Homo sapiens: one gene and its partners. The protein of the gene in region 1 purifies or fractionates together with the protein of each later gene. This does not show direct contact. Each region holds a gene or a part of one and is shown on either strand. Other genes may lie near its edges.

Evidence for each region.
Region 2: the proteins of STK10 (region 1) and COLGALT1 fractionate together in Homo sapiens (co-fractionation; one large-scale study listed by BioGRID). This does not show direct contact.
Region 3: the proteins of STK10 (region 1) and SPECC1 purify together in Homo sapiens (affinity purification with mass spectrometry, with the first as the bait; one large-scale study listed by BioGRID). This does not show direct contact.

What each region holds. Positions count from the first base shown.
Region 1 is NC_000005.10:172,086,257-172,091,381, reverse strand, and holds part of STK10 (serine/threonine-protein kinase 10), read left to right. Parts: intron 1-1,019; coding exon 1,020-1,150; intron 1,151-5,125. UniProt on the Homo sapiens protein: Serine/threonine-protein kinase involved in regulation of lymphocyte migration. Phosphorylates MSN, and possibly PLK1. Involved in regulation of lymphocyte migration by mediating phosphorylation of ERM proteins such as MSN.
Region 2 is NC_000019.10:17,575,215-17,580,339, reverse strand, and holds part of COLGALT1 (procollagen galactosyltransferase 1 precursor), read right to left. Parts: intron 3,146-5,125; coding exon 3,069-3,145; intron 2,980-3,068; coding exon 2,873-2,979; intron 2,384-2,872; coding exon 2,251-2,383; intron 859-2,250; coding exon 731-858; intron 1-730. UniProt on the Homo sapiens protein: Beta-galactosyltransferase that transfers beta-galactose to hydroxylysine residues of type I collagen. By acting on collagen glycosylation, facilitates the formation of collagen triple helix. Also involved in the biosynthesis of collagen type IV.
Region 3 is NC_000017.11:20,200,425-20,205,549, forward strand, and holds part of SPECC1 (cytospin-B), read left to right. Parts: intron 1-3,908; coding exon 3,909-5,125.

The sequences.
Region 1 (5,125 bases):
TCACTTGTGGCGTGTGCGATTACTCACAGGAAAAGATGACGATTATGCGTAATCTCATGGTGACTCCTAGCAGGTGGGGAGTTCAGGCCAGGTCAGCTTTGGCTACCAAACCAGTTATAAAAACAGCCTTTGGTTTTCGGGCTCCTTTGGATTTTGGCACCATGCGCGAGGATTGTGTGTGGTCTGCAGTAATAACTGTCAGAAAGAAATGCTAAGCATGGAACACAGGCCGGGAGTGGGCACTGCTCTGTGTGCCTGCCATGTGTTCTCTCACTGAATCTTCACAACCACCCTGGGAGGCAAGTAGTGTGACTATCCTCCCTGAACAGGTGAGGAAGCTGAGGCTCAGACAGGACAAGAGGCTGGCCCAGAGACACAGAGCAAGTAAGTGGTGCAGTGAGGGTTAGAACGCAGCTCTTTTTTTTTTTTTTTTTTTTTTTTTTTTTAGAGACGGAGTCTAGCTGTATGGCCCAGGCTGGAGTGCAGTGGCGTGATCTAAGCTCTCTGCAAACTCCGCCTCCTGGGTTCAAGTGATTCTCCTGCCTCAGCCTCCCAAGTAGCTGTGATTACAGGCACCTGCCACCATGCCTGGCTACTTTTTGTATTTTTAGTAGAGACAGGGTTTCACTGTGTTGGCCAGGCTGGTCTCGAACTCCTGACCTTGTGATCCGCCTGCCTCGGCCTCCCAAAGTGCTGGGATTACAAGCGTAAGCCACCGTGCCTGGCAAGAACGCAGCTCTTTCTGACACCATGTCCTGGATGCATGAGAGGTGCTGGCAGCAAGGTAGGGGAGGCCTCAGCACAGTTTCTGAAGGCTGAGATCAGGGAAGAGCAAGGGAATAAGCTCAGAACCCCCAGCTCCTAGGTTAAGTTGAGGCAAGAGGGACGATGGATGGCCACATCTCTCTGGGGGTGGTTCTGAAGCTGTGGGCCCAGCAGAGCTGTGGCCTCACCTGCTGCGACAGCCATGGGTCCTTAGCTGAAATGCTGAGACTTGTCTAATGGTTTTCCCTGGCCAGGACCCGAAACTGTACAAAAAAACCCTCAAGCGGACACGCAAATTTGTGGTGGATGGTGTGGAGGTGAGCATCACCACCTCCAAGATCATCAGCGAAGATGAGAAGAAGGATGAGGAGATGAGATTTCTCAGGCAAGCCTGGGAAGGGCCACCAATGGTGGTAACAGGGTGGGGCTATGGTAAGAGGAGTGGGCATTGGTCCTTTGGTGAGAGGGCTGTCTGTCTACAGCATGAAGTGGGGGAATCAAGGAGGCAAAAGGAAACTCATTTTGCCTGCGATCCTGCACTCCCCCATCTACCCAACCGTTCACCTATCTATCCACTCATCCATTCATTTATTCACCCATCTATCCACCTACTCACCTATCTACCTATTCATCTATCCACCCATCCGTCTACCCATCCTTCCACCCACTCACCCCTCCACCCATCCACCTATCTACCCACTCAACTTTCCATCCATCCATCCAACTGTCCACCCATTCATCTACCTATCTACTTAATCATCCATCCTTCCATTCATTTATCCACGCATCAATCCACCTACTCACCTGTCTGCCTATCCATCTATCCACCCAGTCATTCACCCATCCATTCATCCATCCATTCATCCACTCATCCACTGATTCATCTACCCACTCACTCACCTTCCATCTATCCACCTAACAATCCACCCATCCTTCTACTCACTCACCATTCCATCCTTCCCTTCATCTGCCGAATTATCCATCTGTTTATCTATCCATCCACCCAATCACCCATCCGTCCATTTTATCCTTCTATCCATTTATCTACCCATCTATCTATTTACCTACTCCCTATCTACCTTTCCGTCTGTCCACCCAATCATCCATCCAGTCATCCATCCACCCACCCACTCATCTACCCATTCAGCCTTCCACCTATCTACCTAACCATCCATCCATCCATCCATCCATCCATCCATCCATCCATCCATCCATCCATCCATGTATCCACCAACCCACCAGGTTGGAGACAAGGTGGTGACCCAAATAGATAAGGCCATTGCCCTTGTAGAACTTACACCTAATGGGCCAACATACAGTACACAAGATAATCCCTGATTGTGGTACATGCCATGAAACAAGTAACAGGTGACATGATAGTGAGTGCTTGGAGTAGGGGAGGCTGCTCCAAGGGAAGCCCCTGAGCCAGGCCTAAAGGATAAGGGGAGGAGAGCTGGGGGAGCCCAGGGGAAATTGCAGTTGCTGAGGCCCTGAGGGATAACTACTCAGCTTGTTTAAGGGACTGGTGGAGGGAGAGAGGGAGATCTTGACTAGGATGGGCAGGCTCTGGGCTCAGGCTGGGGCAGTGGCCGGGAAGAGGGAAAAACATGGTCAGATTTGACCTACATTTTGGAGGCAAAACCAGTGAGTTGGTAAAGGACTGGAACAGGGAGGAAGGTGTGAGGCAAAGCTGTTTGCTAGGATCAGCTTTATACTTTTCAGTTGTTCATCCCCCACTTACAGCCCTCCTTCGGGAGACCCTATTTCCACATTTTTTAAACAAATGAGGAAACACTATTTCTGGGCAAGTAAGTCACTTGCCCTGGGTCTTCCAGTTAGGCAGGGGTAAAGCTGAGATTCTAACTGGGTCTGTGTGTGTGAGAATTCCTTCAGGTTTCACTGGACCATGTAGCTGGCAGGGGTTGGGGGAGCTTAACACTTAGGGAGGCCATGGAGCCACGGAGTCCCCTGGGGGCCAGGCCTTTGCAGGGTAAATTCATGGTTAGTGTAGAGAAAATTTCTAGAACATTAATCACATATTTTTATACATGTGAATTAAAATTTTTTTAATTTTATGTATTTATTTATTTTTTGAGATGGAGTCTCGCTCTGTCGCTCAGGCTGGAGTGCAGTGGTGCTATCTTGGTTCAGTGCAACTTCTGCCTCCCGGGTTCAAGCGATTCTCTTGCCTCAGCCTCCTGAGTAGCTGGGACTACAGGTGCCCGCCACCATGCCCGGCTAATTTTTGTATTTTTAGTACACACGGGGTTTCACCGTATTGGCCAGGCTGGTCTCAAACTCCTGACCTTGTGATCCGCCCACCTCGGCCTCCCAAAGTGCTGGAATTACAGATGTGAGCCACCGCGCCCGGCCTAATACTCATATTTTTTTAAACGTTTAACCATGCAGCTGGGCACAGCAGCACACACCTGTAATTTCAGCACTTTGGGAGGCTGAAGTGAGAGGATCACTTGAGCCCAGGAGTTCGAGACCATCTGGGCAACCTAGTGTCTCTACAAAAAAATTTTAAAATTAGCTGGGCACATACCTGTAGTCCCAGCTACTCGGGAGGCTGAAGTGGGAGGATCACTTGAGCATAGGAGGTCAAGGCTGCAGTGAGCTGCGTTCATGCCACCGCACTCCAGCCTGGGTAACAGAGCAAGACTCTATCTCTCAAAAATAAATTTAAGGCCGGGCGCGGTGGCTCACGCCTGTAATCCCAGCACTTTGGGAGGCCGAGGCGGGTGGATCATGAGGTCAGGAGATCGAGACCATCCTGGCTAACAAGGTGAAACCCCGTCTCTACTAAAAATACAAAAAATTAGCCGGGCGCGGTGGCGGGCGCCTGTAGTCCCAGCTACTCGGGAGGCTGAGGCAGGAGAATGGCGTGAACCCGGGAGGCGGAGCTTGCAGTGAGCCGAGATTGCGCCACTGCAGTCCGCAGTCCGGCCTGGGCGACAGAGCGAGACTCCGTCTCAAAAAAAAAAAAAAAATAAATAAGTAAATAAATTTAAAAAATAAATTGTAAAAAATGAAAGCATAGGCCAGGTGTAGTGGCTCACACCTGTAATCCCAGCACTTTGGGAGGCCTAGGCGAGTGGATCACCTGAGGTCAGGAGTTCGAGAAAAGCCTGGCCAACATGGCAAAACCTGGTCTCTACTAAAACTACAAAAATTAGCCAGCTGTGGTGGCCGGCGTCTGTAATCCCAGCTACTCGGGAGGCTGAGACAGGAGAATCACTTGAACCCAGGAGGCGGAGGTTGCAGTGAGCCGAGATTGTGTCACTACACTCCAGCCTGGGCGACAGGGTGAGATTCTGTCTCAAAAGTAAATAAATAAATAAATAAATAAATAAATAAGCCAAAACCAAATAAAAGTAGTTTTAGATGTTGTGGATCTCTTCTCCCTCTAGGAGACAGAGGGAGGAAAAACAGACTTTTCACTAGTGTATCTGCATACACCACACACACACACACACACACACACACACACACACACACACACACACTGGTGTCATCTGTGTGGGTCGGGAGGCTAGGGCACAGGTTGCTTTGGCAGATGAAACCACCTTCTGTTCTAATGGTCACCTGAGAGGCACCCTGGACTCTGAGTTTCAACCTCAAGAGCTGGGTTTCCATCACCTCCCCTCTGGGCAATTGAAGTTCTCAGGGATAAATTCTAGATTGGCCACACCCCATGGAGAAGCAGTGCTCTCTGGCCCTGGCTGTGGTTCCCCACCCTCCTCCTGAGCAGAGCAGCTGTGTGCTACTCAGGGTCAAAAGGGGAGACCTCGAGGAGGTGAAGAGGTGCTCGGCAGGAACCGGGATTTTCTCGCTTGCCTGCCGTGGTCTGGAGGTCTGAGCGCCTGTAAACTAGGCCAGGCCACCAGACCACAGGGGTGTGGAAGGCCCTGATCATCCCCTGCTGGCCCAGGCCCCTGGTCATACCTGACCCCTGGCGTTTTTGGAGAATTGGGTCACACCTAGGCATCTGAACCATGTGGCTGAGCATTTATCACATTCTCAGACTGATGAGGCTTCCGGGCAGAGTTCCTCCTGTCCTTCCCTAAAACGGCTTCTGCCGTTCCCTCGCTCTTGAGCCTCAGCCTTCTCTTTGCTTGCCTTTCCTTCTGAGAGCACAGGTGGACCAGGGAGTGCTAGAGCTGGCTGCCTGCCTTCTTTCTGTACTCCTTTTAGGCTTTTTGTCAGTTCTTCTCTAAACCTTAGTTTCTCTTGAGTCAGGATTTCCATTTCCTCGTTAACACTCTCAAAACCTGCCTCCTCTCTTCCCACTTTCCAGAAAAGCAGAGGCTCAGACAGTCTTCCCTCTGTGGCTGTAGAAAGCGCCTCTGGCTTTTCC
Region 2 (5,125 bases), on another chromosome or scaffold:
ATTCACATGGGGCAGTGTTCCCAGAATGCAGATTAGGGCACTGCACATGGAAGGGAAAAAAGAGATGGAGGAAGGGAGAGGACAAACCAGCCCACTTACAGAAGAGAAGGACGGCTCCAGTGCTGGAAACATGTTGGTGGCACTCCCATCCAGGGGCTTGTCTAAGACCAGGCGCCCTGGCCACGCCCCCACACTCTTCGGCCACACCTCCAGCTCTGACCACACCCCCATGCTCTTCAGCCACGCCCACAGGCTGCCCGGTCAAATTTTAGCCACATCCACCTCCACAGGCCTCAGTCAAGTCTCTAAGCCTTGACCAAGCCTGCAGGCTTCCGGCCAGGTCCCTTGAGTTCTGGGTGATCCTTCCAACGCCCTTCCCTATAGGCTACAGCCCTGACAGTGCCTTCAGGCCCAGGAACCACGTGAGCCCTCCTGCTACGCTTCCAAGGGTTGGCCACGCCTGCCACCCTGACCACACCCAGACATACAGGCTCTAGGCTCAGCTGCAGCGCTGTGGCCACGCCCGTAGGATTCAGCTCCACTCCGCCTCCCAGCCCCACCTCTAAGCCCTGGCCATGTACCTAGGCTCCAGTTCCACCCCACCTTCAAGCCCCGCCTCTAAGCCATGACCCATCCCCAGGTCCCAGCTCCACCCTGCCCCCACCCCCACCTCTAAGTCCTGGCCTTGCCCCAGGCCCCAGCTTCACCCCATCCTCAGACCCCCACTCACATGAGGTCCCAGTCCAGGCCCTCCCGCTCCACATCCCGCATGAGGTTCATCAGACGTCTCTTGAAGAAGATCTCAAAACGCAGGTCATCCTCAAACACAAGCGATTTCTGCAGCCCCCGGTCCACCACCTGAGGGAGGAAGCCCCGCCACATCACAGGGAGGCCAAGGCCAGGCCTGACCCTAAAGCACAGAGCTTTGCTTTGAGAAGGTTTGAAAGACCCGTAGAGAAGCCAGTGCATCTCCCTGCCTCTCCTAGCTCCAGGGACATCTGGACATCCAAACCTCTGCCCTCTGCCGTCCATAATGGATCTCAGAAGAGAAAGGCCTCCCAGCCCCTCAAATGCCCACGCCTCATGCACCTCCCGCCTTGCAGCCGCACACCCCCATTTGGCTTCACATTCGATAACAAGTTTTTCTTTTCTTTTTCTTTTTTTTTTTTTTTGAGACGGAGTCTCGCCCTGTCGCCCAGGCTGGAGTGCAGTGGAACGATCTCAACTGCAACCTCCGCCTCCCAGGTTCAAGTAATTCTGCCTCAGCCTCCTGAGCAGCTGGGATTACAGGCATGTGCCACTACGCCCGGATTTTATTTTTCTTTTTTTGAGATGGAGTGTCACTCTTGTCGCCCAGGCTGGAGTGCAATGGCATGATTTCAGCCCACTGCAACCTCTGCCTCCTGGGTTCAAGTGATTCTCCTGCCTCAGTCTCCCAAGTAGAGGGATTACAGGTGCCCACCACCACACCCAGATAATTTTTGTATTTTTAGTAGAGTCTAGGTTTCACCATGTTGGCCAGGCTGGTCTTGAACTCCTGACCTAAGGTGATCCGCCTGCCTCGGCCTCCCAAAGTGCTGAGATTACAGGCATGAGCCACCACGCCCAGCCATTTTTCTTTTTTCTGAGACACGGTTTTGCTCTGCTGTCCAGTCTGCAGTGCAGTGGCACGATCTTGGCTGACTGCAGCCTTAACTCCTGGGCTCAAGCCACTCTCCCACTTTAGCCTCCCAAATAGTTGGGACCACAGGTGTGCGCCACCATGCCCGGCCCTGATGGCCCAAGTTCGAAGCCTAGTCAGACACCCTCCTCCAATCACAGCCTCTCCCTCTGAGGGTGGATGAGGATGCCTGGGCTGGTGAGTGCCCCCAGCAGCACTGGGCAGGTGCTGGTTTAAAGTGGCTCTGTGGCCATGACTTCTAGTACTAAACATCAAGCACAGAGACCAGGCTGGGAGTAATGAGGATTTGTTTACAGGTCCCAGGCCCCAGACACCACCTGCTGCTCAAAAGGGCTCACCCCTACCCCCAGGCTCAGTTTCCACATTTGCGCAATGGAAGGATGGCAGGTACACCTGGGGGTGATACAGCTGGTGTGGCGCATCATTCACTAAAGAGAGGCCATGGGTCCCATGGCTGAGGCTGGATGCCTAGCCGGGGCTTTGGGGAACTCTTTCAACCCCTTTCCCGTCCAAATCTCCGATGAGATCTAGAGTCATAACTCTGGCCCCGCCCATCACTCAGGACACACCTCCTTCCAGATGTTGTAGTGGCTCAGGAAGCAGCCCAGCTCACCCTTGGTGAGGGGCCGGCCGTGGTAGGGGTCCCGGTAGCCAGGCAGCATCTGGATCCCCAGCGCCTCCACCTGGCTGGTGTTCATGGCTCTGGAGAGGAGGAGGAGAGGGTCACGAAGAAGGTTCACCCTGCCTGCCATTCTGCCATCCCCGGCCATTCCACCACCCCCTGCGGCGTTGAGCAGCTGGTCCACCTCTTGTAGCACTGGCACCCCTTCCGGGCACATGGGGCCTCACTCACCTGCACATGGTATACACTCGCGGGCAAACCTGCTCTCCTCCTCTCCTGGGGTCTGACTGACTTACCCCTCCACAGTCCCCACCAGTCTACACTGGCAGCATGCAAACCTACCCATTCCCCTGGGTCAGGACTCACTTGCCTTCCATGGTCTACAACTGTGAGGATCTGCCCCTTCCCCAGGGTCCCATTCACTTCCCCTTCAGGACGCCCACTGACGAGGTCTACATCTGTTTGGACACCACGCCCGCCCCCATCTGAATCACTTGCCGTCTACCAGCGAGGTCTACACCCACATCCACGTGCGGACCCGCCCCCCCACCCCCAGGCCTCGGACTCACTTGCCGTCCACGGCCTCCACCAGCCGGCACTCGATCTCCTGTGCCTGCAGCGCCCGCAGCATGCGCTCCCGCCGGTCCTGCCGCCGCCTCAGGTTGATCATGAAGACCTGCAGCCCGGAGAGTCCCCAGCCAGATCAGCCCCTGCAAACAAGGGCCCTCCAGCCCCCGCCCCGCCTCCAGGGAAGGCCCAGCTCACCTCGTCGAAGCCCATCTTGTCCGGTGTCTTGGTGGGAGCCGAGATGAAGCGGGAGGGCTCTGCGGGCGGGTGCTTCACTGTGGGGCACAGACGTTGAGGAGTCGCTGGGGTAAGGAGCCTCCAGCCTCTCTCCAACACGCTTTCCCCACCCACTCCATGGCTCCCAGTCAGACTGGCTCGGCCCACAAAGTCGACCTGGCTCCGCCCACATCAGCGCTGCCCTCTAGGAGCCCCTCCCATGTCATTTGAACCCTGCACAGCAGCCCAAAGCCCTGGCCACACCCCAGGCCCCAGCTTCACCCCGCCCCCAGTCCTGCCTCTCAGCCCTGGCCACACCCCAGGCCCCAGCTTCACCGCGCCCAAGGCCCCGCTACTCAACCCTGGACTCGCCCCAGGTCCCAGCCTCACCCTGCCCTTAGCCCCGCCTCTAAGCCCTGGCCACACCCCAGGCTACAGCTTCAACCTGCCCCCCAGCCGCACCACTCAGCCCTGGCCACGCCCCAGGCCCCAGCTTCACCCCACAGCCTCCCCCAGCCTTGCCTCTAAGCCCTGGCCATGCCCCAGGCTCCAACTTCACCCTGCACCCCCCCAGCCCCACCTTTAAACCCTGGCCATGCAACAGCTTCGCTCCGACCCCCAGCCCCGCTTCTAAGTCCTGGTCACACCCCAGGCCCCAGCTTCACCCTGCTCCCAGCCCCGACTCTCAGCCGTGGCCACGCCCTGGGCTCCAGCTTCACTCCGCCCCCAACCCTGCCTCTAAGCCCTGGCCACGCCCCATGCTCCAGCTTCACTCTACCCCCCAGCCCCACCTCTATGCCCCTGCCAACCCAAAGAACCCCCATTCCTACCTCAGGGCCTTTGCACATGCTGGATCCCTGCTTGAAATACCCTTCCTTTCCCTGCTCTGTAACGTTACTTCTCAGCTATGATGCCCTGGGCATGGGGGTCACCCTCCCCACTCCCACCTCCCTAGGCTGAGCCAGGCACCTCCTCTGGGCCCCAGCAGCACCTGGACTTGCACCACCAAAGCTCGCATCCTTGCTGCCCTAACCCCCTGGCCCTGTGCCTGTCTGTTGTGAGCCCTTTGGGAAGGACACCAGGTATGTCTGCTCACACTGGGCCCCTAGTGCCCAACACAGGGGCTTGGCACACAGCAGGCACTCAGTAATTGCTTGTAGAATGAACCAAGAAATGATGGCATGCTGTATATTCTTGATTGGCCTGGGCCTCAGCTTTCCTCATCTATAAAATGGGCCAATAAGCCACTGAGAGGTTTCACAAAGAGATGTCATGAGATCATGCACTATGTCATGGGGTGAACTGTGTCTCCCCAGTGCCAACCACCAGTACCCCAGGATATGATCCTATTTGGACACAGGGTTGTGTACAGAGGTCATCGAGTTAAAATGAGGTCATTAGGGTGGGCCCTAATCCACATGGCTTGTGTGCTTTTAAAAGGGGAAATCTGTAGCTCCTTGGGAGGCTGAGGCAGAAGGATTGCCCAGGAGTTCAAGGCTGCAGCGAGCTATGATGGTGACACTGCACTCCAGCCTGGGTGACAGAGACTCCATCTCCAAAAAAAGCAAAAAAGAAGGCCGGGCACAGTGGTTCATGCCTGTAATCCCAGCACTTTGGGAGGCTGAGGTGGGCAGATCATGAGGTCAGGAGTTCGAGACCAGCCTGGCCAACATACTGAAACCCTGTCCCCACTAAAAATACAAAAAACTAGCTGGGCGCAGTGGCTCATGCCTGTAATCCCAGCACTTTGGGAGGCCGAGGCAGGTGGCTCACAAGGTCAGGAGATCGAGGCCATCCAGGTTAACACAGTGAAACCCCATCTCCAATAAAAATACAAAAAATTAGCCGGATGTGGTAGCAGGCGCCTGTAGTCCCAGCTACTCGGGAGGCTGAGGCAGGAGAATGGCGTGAACCCAGGAAGCGGAGCTTGCAGTGAGCCGAGATCGGGCCACTGCACTCCAGCCTGGGAGACAGAGCGAGACTCCGTCTCAAAAAAAACAAACAAACAAAAAATAATAAAAATAAAAATACAAAAAATT
Region 3 (5,125 bases), on another chromosome or scaffold:
GCTTTTATGTTAACTTCTTGGAATCAGCCAGCCTCAGGAGGATGGTACACATAAGTGATGACGGGGTGGGAGCAGCACAAAAGATCCAATGGTGCTGGCTGAGCCAATCCCTGTTCCACTGGCCCTTCTCTCCACTGTCCCTTATGTGGTGCTGTGTAAGGAAGCATGGCCAGTCTCAGGACTTCAGAGTGCTTTGGTTAGCAGTGAGGTCTGACTCCCACTGCTTCAAGGAGGTGTCGTAAGCTGTAGGGCTGTTGCTCTTTACTTTTCCCTGTCAGTACCCACGAGGAGGTGTGTTTGGGCTGGAGGCCTGGGCTCACATGGTGGGTGCACAACCAAGACCATCATCATTGGTCTGATGATGAATTTTTAGCAACTCTGAACCTAACCTGTGCTCTGTAACAGTTTCTGAAATGAGGTGTACAGAGATGGGAAGAATCTTTTGGAAAACAGAGACAGACATAGTAAAAAAAAAAAAAAAGGAAAAAGAATAGATATAACAAAAATATGGCTGGATTGTACATTTCATAATACACATCCATTCATAAATATACTTTAGTTTCATGGTTTTTTAAAAATTCCTAGTAGTATAGATAAGGCAGAAGTAACACTTATGGGGAGAACAGACTGCAATTTGGCAGCAAAAGGAAGGTGTTAAACTGTAGCTGGAAATAACAGCAGACTTGATCTGTTCTATATTAATTTTTCCAGCTTCAAAACCAACAAACAATTGAAGGTTTAAAAAAAAGAAAGTGGCTGGGCACGGTGGCTCACGCCTGTCATCCTAGCACTTGGGAGGCCAAGGCGGGGAGATCACCTGAGGTCAGGAGATCGAGACCAGCCTGGCCAACATGGTGAAACCCCATCTCTACTAAAAAAAAAAAAACAAAAAAACGAAATACAGTAAATTAGCCGAGCATGGTGGCTCGCGCCTGTAGTTCCAGCTATTCGGGATGCTGAGGCAGGAGAATCACTTAAACTTTGGAGGCAGAGGTTGCAGTGAGCTGAGGTCGCACATTGCATTCCAGCCTGGGCAACAAGAGCAAAACTCCATCTCAAAAAAATAAAAAAAGAAAGAAAAAGTCAGCCTTAATTTAGTGATGTTATTAAGAATAACAAATGCCAGTGTGATGATCAGTCCTGGACTCTCAGGTTTGCCTGTTCTGACTAGAGTTATGGTGAAACTTTAGTTATCTTCCAGTTTTTAATACGGTCCTTGCTGCAATGACTTTATTCTAGAGAACTAGCATTACTAAAACATTTTAGTGCTTAGTGGTTTTTAATACTTATTTCACAAGAATAATTAAATAAGTCTTTTCCTCGTTGAGTGTGTAGTATGATGCAGGTTAGGTATCTGTGACACCTATAAGTAAGGCTGACCCATGAACAACACTAGCTTGAACTGTGTGGGTCCATTTATATGGAGACTTAAAAAAAATAAATACATTGGAAAATTATTTGGAGAGTTGCAACAGTTTGAAAAAAATTCAGATGAACTGGGTAGTCTAGAAATATGAAAACAATTGAGAAAAAGTTACATATGTCATGAATGCATAAAATACATGTAGATACTAATAATCAGTTTTATCATTTACTACCATAAAATATACACAAATCTATTATAAAAAGTTAAAATTTGTCTAAACTTATGCACACACAGACTGTACATGGTGCTATTCATAGTTGAGAGAAATGTAAACAAATATAAAGATGCAGTATTATAACTGCATACAATTAACTGTAGTACATACAGTACTCCTGTAACAATTCTATAGCCACTTCCTGATGTTGTTGCAGTGCGCTCAAGCATTGGGGGTAGCTGCTTGGAAGGTACTGTGATGCTAATCATCTCTGTGGGAGCAGTTCCTCTCTCCAGTACACCTCAGATCGCAGTAAAAAGTGACCTCTTGAGATTCTTGAGTATGTTTTGTTGTGTTTAGTGCAGTACCACAAACCTTGAATAACACTATGGGACCCATACAAAGTGCCACTAGTGATGCTGGCAGTGCTCCCTAGAAGCCAATAAAACCCCTGACAGCATTGAATTGCTTGCTAGATTGAGGAATGGTTGCCTGTCGCTTCAGACAGATGATTCATTTTGCAAACAGACCATGTAAACTTATGGTATTGATAAATACAGTATGGTACTGCAAATGTATTTCCTCTTCCTTATGGTTTTCTGAATAACATTTTCTTTTTTCTATCTCATTTTATCTTAAGAATACAGTATATAATACATATAACACAAAGTGTGTGTTAACTGTTTATGTTTTCAGTCAGGCTTCCGGTCAACAATAGGCTATTAGTAGTTAAGTTTCTGGGGAGCCAAAAGTTATACACAGAGTTTTGACTGCATGAAAGGTTGGCACCCCTAACCTCCAAGTTGTTCAGGGGTCAACTATATTAAAAGTCTATGATATACTCTTGGCTTTCCAGAAACTTAATTTGAAGAAGTTAATTTAAAAACCATAGTTTTCTATATATTAATTTGACAGTTCAGCCTTTATTAGGTCAAAGTTTCAAAAGAGCTCAGCTGTTAGATGTTTAGTAATGAATGCCATCAGCCTTTATGTCATCAGGATTCAGGATGTTTAGGTGTGTGTTTGCTCAGGGCTCAGAAATAGTCTTGGTGGTGGGTTTACAGCTGCCCATCTTGTTAGGTGTGGAACCTGCCTTAGCGCTGGGGCTGCTGCCAGTCTATGGGAACATTCCCTCCCGTGCCCTTCCTACACTGTAGAGGCCTACAGGTTGATGACCACTTCTGGGACCCTTCATTACACCTCTCACTGAAAGCATGTAGAGTTGTGTAAGTGACAGCAGCCAGCCTTGACTCATCAAATAGTCTTTCAGTTTGTAAAAAAAAAAAAAAAAAAGTCCAGGATTTTATTTTACACTGTAACATCTGAGGTGGGTTTCAATTCTAGAGCACAATGGAGACTGATGTCTGGGTTTCACCCCTAGAATTGTTTTTACATTGTCTGTGATATAGTACAGATGAAAATAAAAGAGAATTATTTACACCTTACATTTGCTGTTACAAGTATTCTGTATTATGTCTATATCATGTCAAGTAACATAGGTATGTTCTTATTTCATTTATTCTTGTTTCTCCATGTACACAAATGAGTACATCATTTCCACTTACGGCAAAAGTGATATGTCATTGTATCAGATCCATCTCTCAGTATTATCTGTATCTTCTGATTTCTTAATCAAATTTATGCTGTCAAAATATGTTAATGATGTTTTTTAAAGTGTTTATTGAGAAATTCACAAAGAACTTGTATTTTGTCAAAAGGCCATTGTTTTTGTTGCCAACATTATCAGTGCAGATGTACTAAATTGCAAGTTACAGAAAACCCAGCTCAAGGTGACTTATAGGAAGGGTATTTACTGGCTTGCCTAACTGAAAGGCCAGCTATAGGCCAAACTTCAGGGTTGATTTGATTTAGCAACTTAACAATGCTATTGAGAGTTTAGTTTCCTTCTTCCTTCTCTGCCATCTGCATTCCCACCTTCCTCTTGAAAGGGCAGGGTGGTTGCCAGCCATTCCCACACCTACACATTTTCTCACTCTGGTCCCGTGGTGTTTAATAGCTTGCCCAGAAAACCTTCCCTTTGTCACATTGATCTTAATTGAGTTGTGTGCCCATGCGTGAACCAGCAACTGGCTGGGGATGGGGTCATCCTGAGTAGCTCAGGCTTGGAGTCAGCCTCACCCAAAGTATAGGGCTGTGGGGAGGAAGCACAGAAACCACAGTCAGAACTGGGTAATTAGCTAGAGGAGGAGGAAATGGATGAAGAGCGACAGCCACTGTCCACTGTGCCATGTGATTTACAGTCATTTGGGTTTTGTTTATAAGAATGCTTGCTTTATTTTTTCATTTTTTTCTTCTTCTGTCTTTAAGGGGCCTTTACAACAACTAAACGGACAGGCATTCCAGCCCCACGGGAATTTTCAGTAACTGTCTCAAGAGAGAGGTCTGTGCCACGTGGTCCCTCCAACCCCAGGAAATCAGTGTCCAGTCCAACTTCTTCCAACACTCCCACTCCTACGAAACACCTGAGGACCCCTTCCACAAAGCCCAAGCAAGAGAATGAAGGTGGAGAAAAGGCTGCGCTTGAGTCCCAAGTTCGGGAACTTTTGGCAGAAGCCAAAGCAAAAGATAGTGAAATTAACAGGCTTCGAAGTGAACTAAAGAAATACAAAGAGAAAAGGACTCTGAACGCTGAGGGGACTGATGCTTTGGGCCCAAATGTCGATGGAACATCAGTCTCCCCAGGTGACACGGAACCTATGATAAGAGCTCTTGAGGAGAAGAACAAGAACTTTCAGAAAGAGCTTTCCGATCTAGAGGAAGAAAACCGGGTCCTGAAGGAGAAACTGATCTATCTTGAGCACTCCCCAAATTCAGAAGGGGCAGCAAGTCACACTGGCGACAGCAGCTGCCCAACATCCATAACTCAAGAGTCAAGCTTCGGAAGCCCAACTGGAAATCAGATGTCCAGTGACATTGATGAGTATAAAAAAAACATACATGGAAATGCATTACGGACATCAGGCTCCTCAAGTAGCGATGTTACCAAAGCTTCTTTGTCGCCAGATGCTTCCGACTTTGAGCACATTACAGCAGAGACACCCTCAAGGCCCCTGTCCTCCACCAGTAACCCCTTTAAGAGTTCAAAGTGTTCTACTGCTGGGAGTTCCCCAAACAGCGTAAGTGAATTGTCCCTGGCTTCCCTCACAGAGAAGATACAAAAGATGGAAGAAAACCACCATAGCACTGCAGAAGAACTACAGGCTACTCTACAAGAATTATCAGACCAGCAACAAATGGTACAGGAATTGACAGCTGAAAATGAGAAGCTGGTGGATGAAAAGACGATTTTAGAGACATCCTTTCATCAGCATCGAGAGAGGGCAGAGCAGCTAAGTCAAGAAAATGAGAAGCTGATGAATCTTTTACAAGAGCGAGTAAAGAATGAAGAGCCCACCACTCAGGAAGGAAAAATTATTGAACTGGAGCAGAAGTGCACAGGTATTCTTGAACAGGGCCGCTTTGAAAGAGAGAAGCTACTCAACATTCAGCAGCAGTTGACCTGTAGCTTGCGGAAGGTTGAGGAA